Regions from separate parts of the Homo sapiens genome. Here regions 1 and 3 are each linked to region 2. The links come from fine-mapping of genetic effects on gene expression. A gene starts in region 2. Each other region holds a variant in brackets. All regions are shown on one strand. Distances are between the middles of the regions.

Region 1 (2,759 bases), 23 kb after region 2:
CTATGGAAAGATACCACAGCCACGAAACTGACTTGGCTATAGTTCATATATCTTACTCACATTTCACCAGTTTTACATTCACTTATTTCAGTGTGTATTTAGGTCATTCAGTTTTATTATATATATAGATTTGAGTGACCACCACCACCGTAAAGTCACAATAGTTCCATTACAAGAGTCTCTCATTCTGGCTGGGTGTGGTGGCTTACACCTGTAATCCCAGCACTTTGGGAGGCTGAGGTGGGTGGATCACCTGATGTAAGGAGTTCGAGACCAGCCCGGCCAACATGGTGAAACCCCATCTCTTCTAAAAATACAAAAAATTAGCTGGGCGTGGTGGCACATGACTATAATCCCAGCTACTTGGGAGGCTGAGGCAGGAGAATCGCTTGAACCCGGGAGTCAGGGGTTGCAGTCAGCTGAGGTCATACCATTGCACTCCAGGCTGGGTGACAGAGTGAGACTTCGTCTCAAAAAAAAAAAAGCCAGGCACAGTGGCTCATGCCTGTAATCCCAACACTTTGGAAGGCTGAGGTGGGCGGATCACGAGATCAGGAGTTCAAGACCAGTTTGACCAATGTGGTGAAACCCCATCTCTACTAAAAATACAAAAATTAGCCAGGAGTGGTGGCGCGTGCCTGTAGTCCCAGCTACTTGGGAGGCTGAGGCAGGAGAATCGCTTGAACCCAGGAGGCGGAGGTTGCAGTGAGCCAAGATCGCACCATTTGCACTCCAGCCTGGGTGACAGCGAGACTCTGTCCCCCCAAAAAAAAAAAAACCTCTCATTCTACCTTTTTATAGCCCCAGTCACCTCCCTCCCACCCTTTCTAACCTCTGGCAACCACTAATCTGTTTTTTATGATTTTGTCGTTTCGAGAATGTTATATAAATGAAATCATCTAGGAGTTTGGCTTTTTTCTTTTTTTAGAGATACGGTCTTGCCCTGTTGCCCAGGCTTTAGCATAGTGGTACGATCATAACTCACTGCAGCCTCAAACTCTTGAGCTCAAGCAATCCTCTGGCCTCAGCTTCCCAAGTAGCTGAGAATTACAGGCATGTGCCACTACACCCAGCTAATTTTTTAAAATTTTTGTAGAGACAAGGTTTTGCCACAGTTCCCAGGCTGGTCTTGAACTCCTGGGCTCCAGTGATCTTCCTGCCTTGGTCTCCCAAAGTGCTGGGATTACAGGCATAAGCCACCATGCCTAGCCTGTTTTTTTTTTCAGTCAGCATAATTCTCTGAAGATCCATCTAAATTGTTATGTTTATCTGTAGAAATTTTCTTGCATATCAGGGCCGGGTGCAGTGGCTCACACCTGTAATCCCAGCACTTCGGGAGGCCGAGGCGGGCGGATCATGAGGTCAGGAGATCAAGACCATCCTGGCTAACACGGTGAGACCCCGTCTCTACTAAAAATACAAAAATTAGCCAGGTGTGGTCGCGGGCGCCTGTAATCTCAGCTACTCAGGAGGCTGAGGCAGGAGAATCGCTTGAACCTGGGAGGCGGAGGTTGCAGTGAGCCGAGATTGCGCCATTGCACTCCAGCCTAGGCATCAAAGTGAGACACTGCCAAAAAAAAAAAAA[G/AG]GTAATTTTCTTGCATATCAATAGTATAGTTACCACATTTAGAAAACTTAACATTGGTATTGTTACCTAATATATAGTTTATATTCCAATTTTACCAATTATGTATTTTTTTCCCACAATAATATTTTTTAGTTGTCCTTAGTGGTGCCATGACAGTGTCTTAGACTTTTTTTTTTTTTTTTTTTTTTTTTTGGCAGAGTCTTGCTCTGTCACCCAGGCTGTAGTGTAGTGGTGCAATCTCGGCTCACTGCAACCTCTGCTCACTGCAACCCTCGCCTCCCAGGTTCAAGCGAGTCTCCTGCCTCAGCCTCCTGAGTAACTGGGATTACAGGCACGCACCACCATGCCCAGCTTATTTTTGTATTTTTAGTAGGAACAGAATTTCGCTACGTTGACCAGGCTGGTGTCAAACGCCTGACCTTGTGATCTGCCCATCTCGGCCTCCCAAGAGTACTGGGATTATAGGTGTGAGCCACCGCGCCCGGCCGACATTTATTTATTTATTTATTTTTTGAGACGGAGTCTCGCTCTGTCGCCTAGGCTGGAGTGCAGTGGCACGATCTCGGCTCACTGCAAGCTCCGCTTCCCGGGTTCATGCCATTCTCCTGCCTCAGCCTCCCGAGTAGCTGGGACTACAGGCGCCTGCCACCATGCCCAGCTAATTTTTTTTGTGTTTTTAGTAGAGCTGGGGTTTCACGGTGTTAGCCAGGATGGTCTCAATCTCCTGACCTCGTGATCCATCCACCTTGGCCTCCCAAAGTGCTGGGATTACAGGCGTGAGCCACCATGCCCGGCCCAACATTTCTTGTTTTTGATGACCATGACAGTTCTGAGGAATACTGGTCAGTTGTTTTGCATAATGTCTTTCAATTGAGTTTTTCTGATTTTTTTTTTTTTAATGATTAGACTGGAATTACGGGTTTTTGCGAGGAAGACCACGGAAGTAAAGTGCCATTTTTCTGACATGATATCAAAAGTATATACTAAAAAATGAATTATCGTTGTTGATGTTGTCCTTGATCAGCTGGCTGAGGTAGTTTGTTAGGTTTCCCTGCTATAAAGTTACTCTTTCCCTCTCCTTTTCATATTATACTTTTTGGAAGGAAGGCACTATGTGCAGCTCACACTTAAAGAGTGGGGCGTTATAGTTCCTTTCCTTGATGGGGGTGTATCT
Region 2 (2,759 bases):
CTGATCACCTGAGGTCGGGAGTTCGAGACCAGCCTGACCAACGTGGAGAAACCCCGTCTCTACTAAAAATACAAAATTAGCCAGGCGTGGTGGCGCATGCCTGTAATCCTCAGGAAGGCTGAGGCAGGAGAATCGCTTGACCGGGGGACGCAGAGTTGCGGTGAGCCAAGATCGCGCCATTGCACTCCAGCCTGGGCAACAGTAGCGAAACTCTCATTCAAAATAAGTAAATAAATAAAAAATAAAAAAACTAGGATCATTTCTCAAATAAACTATTGGTTTGTCACTTAATTGATTTGTCACGTTTGCTTTTTATTATGTTGTACTTCTAGATTTTATCCCTGACTACTCAACTATTTGTCCAGGGTAATATAGGAGCATTACGTTAGAATATACTAGCTTTGGAGTGAGTTAAAATGTTGGTTTTCAGTAAGTAAAATTTAAGTGTCCCACTAGAAAGAGGACTGTGATTTTTCGCGGTTGGGGTCAAAGGTAACAGGAAACAAGGTAGGCAAAAAGGGGTAAAGTTTAAGGCTCTGCAGACAAATGTTAGGTGTTGTTACTGCAAAATTGAACAAAGAACAAGAATCTTGGGCTTGAAAGCCTGGACTTTTCCCTAGAAACAACCATTCACAGTGTAGGGACTGAAGGGCCAGCTGTGAGGCAGCCGAGCTAGCGCCCTATCCTCACAAAGGGAGTGAAAGACGGAGACGGGTATCGGGAAAAAAATAAGTGCTGCGTCCAAGAATTTAGGAGTCAGTCCATGTCGCAGAACAGGGAGAAGGGCTGGGAAGAAAAGGCCAGCAAGGAACCTAGGAAGAGCGGAATCTCTCGGGAGGAGGTTATGGAGGCCGCAGCGGGTGATGGGTCTCTCCTGAAGGCGACTTGCCGGGGATTCCCTATTCCGCAGTCCTCTGGGAGTCGCAAAGAGAGTTAGGAAAGGCCGTGCAGCAGCGTCGCAGCCGGGCTGGCAACGGTAGAGGAATCGGCAGTGAGGCCTCTCCCCACACCCTGCCAGCCCAACTGCCGCCGCCGCCGCCGCCGCCACCGCGGGGCCCGGGATTGGCCCGAGGGCGGCGCAGGGCGGGGCGGGGGCTGCTGGGATGCAGGCCTGAGAGGCTGGCGCGCGCGCACACGGGCGCGGGTTCGGCGGCGGCGCGCGCGTGCTCTGTCGGCCTGTGCGGCGCTGCGGCGGAGCGGGCCATGGCAGTGGGGAGGGGGCGAGTGTAGTGCTGCGCGGGGCAGGCGGGAGGTGATCGAGAGAGGCAGGGATGGGGGCGCCGGAGTGGAGCGGTTGCGGCGGCCTGGGCTGCTGACTGCGCACTTGGAATAGTAGCAGGCGGCGGCGGCGGAACGCCAGGCAGGTGAGTGCGGCGGCCGGGACCCGGATGCGGCGCGGCTGAGGGGCGGCTGGGTCGCGGCGCCGGCTGCGGTGCCCCCGGGCGTGCTGGCGGTGCGTTCTAGCTTGCCGCTACCTGCGGCGCTGGCGACTCTTGTGGTTGCACCGCGCTTCCTGCCAGCTTGGAGGATAACCGCCTACCGGCCGGTGGGGGCGTCTGGCTTGGTTGCGGCCCGCCCTGGGCTCTCCAAGGTGAGTGGCGCCCCCCGGCCCCTGGGCGGCAGAGACGCTGCCGGGCGTCCCGGGTCACTGTCGCTTTGGGTCCCGTTCCTGAGGGGCGTTTCTGTGGAGAGACGGCGTACTCGCGCCCCGCGTCTATGCGGACACCTCCGGAACTTCCCGACCCTCAGGTGCCTTTTTGCGCAGAAGTGTATTTCAGAGGCGTGGACCCAGGGTTATTAGGTTATGGACATGTTTTCGAATCCCAACGCCGCTGCTGACCAGTCCTGGGGCCTTGGGCCAAAATATCCTGATGTGTTAAATGGAAATAATAATACATACACCATAAGGTTGTTGTGAGGTTAGGCATAACTGAACAAGTGCTAAGTAAATGATACCCCTGCTGCAGCATCTCGTGTTAGCTATTGCTAATTCCTGGCTGCTGGCGTGCGTTTGGGGGCACATTTATTTCCGATCTGCTCTGGTGTTGCAGTAACCGATACTGGAGTTGCTTAATATTGGAGCCTGTTAACCTCGCAGTGGCCAAAATAGAATCCTATAGTCCCTTACTAGAATCCTGCAGTCTCTTCCCGCAGGGCTGAATTGGAACCCTGTCTCAGGTACTGAGTGGGAATTACTGCTGAAATGAAACCGAGCAAATTCGGGATTCGCTTAGGATGAAAGATGGTGGGACGTAAACTTGAAGTGCTTTGCTGTTTCATCTCAAGTGACACTTGAACTCTGCCACTTGTTACAGAGTTATAAACACACGAAGAGTATGGAAACAGACTCTTTTTTCTGCATTGCTACATCCAAAGGGAGTGACAAGTGCTTTTGTAAACATCATTGTGGGCAGTGTGACTGTCTGGTGAAGTCATGATAATTAAATGAGTACTTATTTTGAAGCACTGAATGGAAGTTTGGAGATATGATTCGTAATAAAATTGTCTCCAACGAGTCAGAGGTCTCAGCAGTTCATTAATCATTTGGGGATTTTTATGCTACATTGTAAGATTTTATGGTAAAAGCAGAACTGTTTAAGTCATAATAATGTAGCACAGGAAAGGGTGGTCAGATAAGGATCTTAACCCAGTTTCAGAATGCAGGTATGGAAGAAAGTAAAGTCTTTTTTCTGACCAGGTGCGTTGGCTCACGCCTGTAATCCCAGCACTTTGGGAGGCCGAGGCGGGCGGATCAATTG
Region 3 (2,759 bases), 49 kb after region 2:
TGTTGAGTGCTTACTGTTTCTGGTCCTTTGATAATGTGGTGTGCTTTTTACTTTTACACAGAAAATAACTGTGGTCAGATTGTCATGCAGTTTGCCATAGACAGTAAGGATATTGTGAAAGAAATTCTGGCTGTCTGCATAGCATGACCTTTCAAAACTGTTTTCTTTGCTGCAAGCATTTCACTTAGCCTTTTGACTGCCACATGATAGAGGAAGTAGTACATAAAGGGTAATATAAATGGCTGCCTTGTTGGTCTCAATACTGTTTTTTAAACCATGTTAAATAGTCACATGTTATTAAATAGTTTTATGTGGAGGATTACCAGTTTTATGCATAGTATAGTACATTTTAAGTATAATTTTATAAAACTTATAGTATTTAAAATTTAAATACAGGCTGGGCACGGTGGCTCATGCCTGTAATCCCAGCACTTTGGGAGGCCGAGGTGGGTGGATGACCTGAGGTGAGGAGTTCGAGACCAGCCTGGCCAACATGGTGAAACCCCATCTCTACTAAAAATCCAAAAAATTAGCTGGGCATGGTAGTGCGTGCCTGTAATCCCAGCTACTCAGGAGGCTGAGGCTTGAACCTGGGAGGCAGAGATTGCAGCGAGCCAAGATCGCGTCATTATACTCCAGCCTGGGTGACAAGAACAAGACTCCATCTTAAAAAAAAAATTAAATAGAAAATCACATTATTTTCAAAAAGGACCTAAACTTTTTATTCAAAGTTTTAAGGATTATTAGTGAATGGAGATTATTATATATAGCTCATGACTACAAATCTGTAATTTTTGTGAGGAGACATTTTTAAAGCAACCTTTGGAGCTCTCTTTCTGCTGCTTCTGAGCACCCAGGAGAGACTGTTTTCTTTAACACTGTGAAGAGAACTGGGGAAAATGAGGAAGCTCCAGCCTGATTTTATTTTACTTTTATTTTATTTTATTTGAGATGGAGTCTTGCTTCATATACTCCAGTAAATGTGGTCATGCTATATATATTCTTTTGTTTCTTTTAACATTGTTGGTAAGGTTCATTAATGGTGATGTGTGTAGCTGTATTTTATTCATTTTTCCTATTGTAAACTATTATTTATTGATCTATTAATGTACATTAGGATTATGCCTAGTTTTTTGTTACTATGAAAACTTTCACCTTAAACATTCATGTGAATGTCATATCCTCAGATAAGCATTTTCTTTTTTTTTTTTTTTTAAGTATTTATTGATCATTCTTGGGTGTTTCTCGGAGCGGGGGATTTGGCAGGGTCATAGGACAATAGTGGAGGGAAGGTCAGCAGATAAACATGTGAACAAGGGTCTCTGGTTTTCCTAGGCAGAGGGCCCTGCCTGCTTCCTTC[C/T]GCAGCGTTTGCGTCCCTGGGTACTTGAGATTAGGGAGTGGTGATGACTCTTAAGGAGCATGCTGCCTTCAAGCATCTGTTTAACAAAGCACATCTTACACCGTCCTTAATCCATTTAACCCTGAGTGGACACAGCACATGTTTCAGAGAGCATGGGGTTGGGGGTAAGGTTATAGATTAACAGCATCCCAAGGCAGAAGAATTTTTCTTAGTACAGAACAAAATGGAGTCTCCTATGTCTACTTCTTTCTACAGAGACACAGTAACAATCTGATCTCTTTCTTTTCCCCACATTTCCCCCTTTTCTATTCGACAAAACTGCCATCGTCATCATGGCCCGTTCTCAATGAGCTGTTGGGTACACCTCCCAGACAGGGCGGCGGCCTGGCAGAGGCGCCCCCCCACCTCCTGGAGGGGGCGGCTGCCGGGCGGGAGCTTCCCCCCGCCTCCCTCCGGGACAGGGCGGCTGGCCGGGCGGGGGCTGCCCCCCACCTCCCTCCCGGACGGGGCGGCTGACCGGGCGGGGGCTGCCCCCCATCTCCCTCCCGGACGGGGCGGCTGGCCGAGCGGGGGCTGCCCCCCACCTCCCGGACAGGGCGGCTGCTGGGCAGAGATGCTCTTCACTTCCCAGACGGGGCGGCTGCGGGGCGGAGGGGCTCCTCACTTCCCAGACGGGGCGGCTGCCGGGTGGAGGGGCTCCTCACTTCTCAGACGGGGTGGCCGGGCAGAGACGCTCCTCACCTCCCAGACGGGGTGGCGGCCGGGCAGAGGGGCTCCTCACATCCCAGACCATGGGTGGCCAGGGAGACGCTCCTCACTTCCCAGACGGGGTGGCGGCCGGGCAGAGGCTGCAATCTCAGCACTTTGGGAGGCCAAGGCAGGCGGCTGGGAGGTGGAGGTTATAGCGAGCTGAGATCACGCCACTGCATTCCAGCCTGGGCAAGATTGAGCACTGAGTGAGCGAGACTCCGTCTGCAATCCCAGCACCTCGGGAGGCCCATGCGGGCAGATCACTCGCGGTCAGGAGCTGGAGACCAGCCCAGCCAACAGGGCGAAACCCCGTCTCCACCAAAAAATACAAAAACCAGTCAGGCGTGGCGGCGCGCGCCTGCAATCCCAGGCACTCCTCAGGCTGAGGCAGGAGAATCAGGCAGGGAGGTTGCAGTGAGCCGAGATGGTGGTAGTACAGTCCAGCCTCCGCTCGGCATCAGAGGGAGACCGTGCAAAGTGGGAGACGGAGACGGAGACGAGAGGGAGAGGGGGAGGGGGAGGGAGAGGGAGAGCCTTTTTTTGTTTTTTGATACAGAGTCTCTCTCTGTTGCCCAGGCTGGAGTGCAGTGGCGTGATCTTAGCTCATTGCAACCTCTGCTTCCCGGGTTCAAGTGATTCCACTCAGCTT

Direction of the effects. Alleles are on the strand shown, and positions count from the first base shown. SD is a standard deviation of normalised expression in the study named. Not every link is listed here.
For the expression in monocytes of the gene that starts at base 1,131 in region 2, allele G in region 1 goes with a lower level than allele AG (large effect, 0.82 SD a copy in Quach 2016).

What was found. PIP is the estimated chance that this variant, and not a neighbour inherited with it, causes the effect. A credible set is the group of variants that fine-mapping cannot tell apart.
Region 1: its variant is the best candidate, but not a certain one, in a credible set for the expression of PIK3CB in monocytes (Quach 2016, PIP 0.72).
Region 3: its variant is the best candidate, but not a certain one, in a credible set for the expression of PIK3CB in whole blood (INTERVAL, PIP 0.85).

The regions. Positions count from the first base shown.
Region 1 is chr3:138,810,259-138,813,017 of GRCh38, reverse strand. All of the region lies in intron 1 of PIK3CB (phosphatidylinositol-4,5-bisphosphate 3-kinase catalytic subunit beta), which reads left to right. Among named protein-coding and RNA genes, the nearest start is that of PIK3CB, 23 kb to the left of the region's middle. The variant G/AG (reference allele first, on the strand shown) is at 1,586.
Region 2 is chr3:138,833,300-138,836,058 of GRCh38, reverse strand. PIK3CB (phosphatidylinositol-4,5-bisphosphate 3-kinase catalytic subunit beta) reads left to right here and starts at 1,131. Exons shown (of 24, transcript NM_006219.3): 1 at 1,131-1,364. RefSeq lists a silencer at 895-1,634.
Region 3 is chr3:138,784,282-138,787,040 of GRCh38, reverse strand. The region is part of intron 2 of PIK3CB (phosphatidylinositol-4,5-bisphosphate 3-kinase catalytic subunit beta); the gene reads left to right. Among named protein-coding and RNA genes, the nearest start is that of PIK3CB, 49 kb to the left of the region's middle. The variant C/T (reference allele first, on the strand shown) is at 1,361.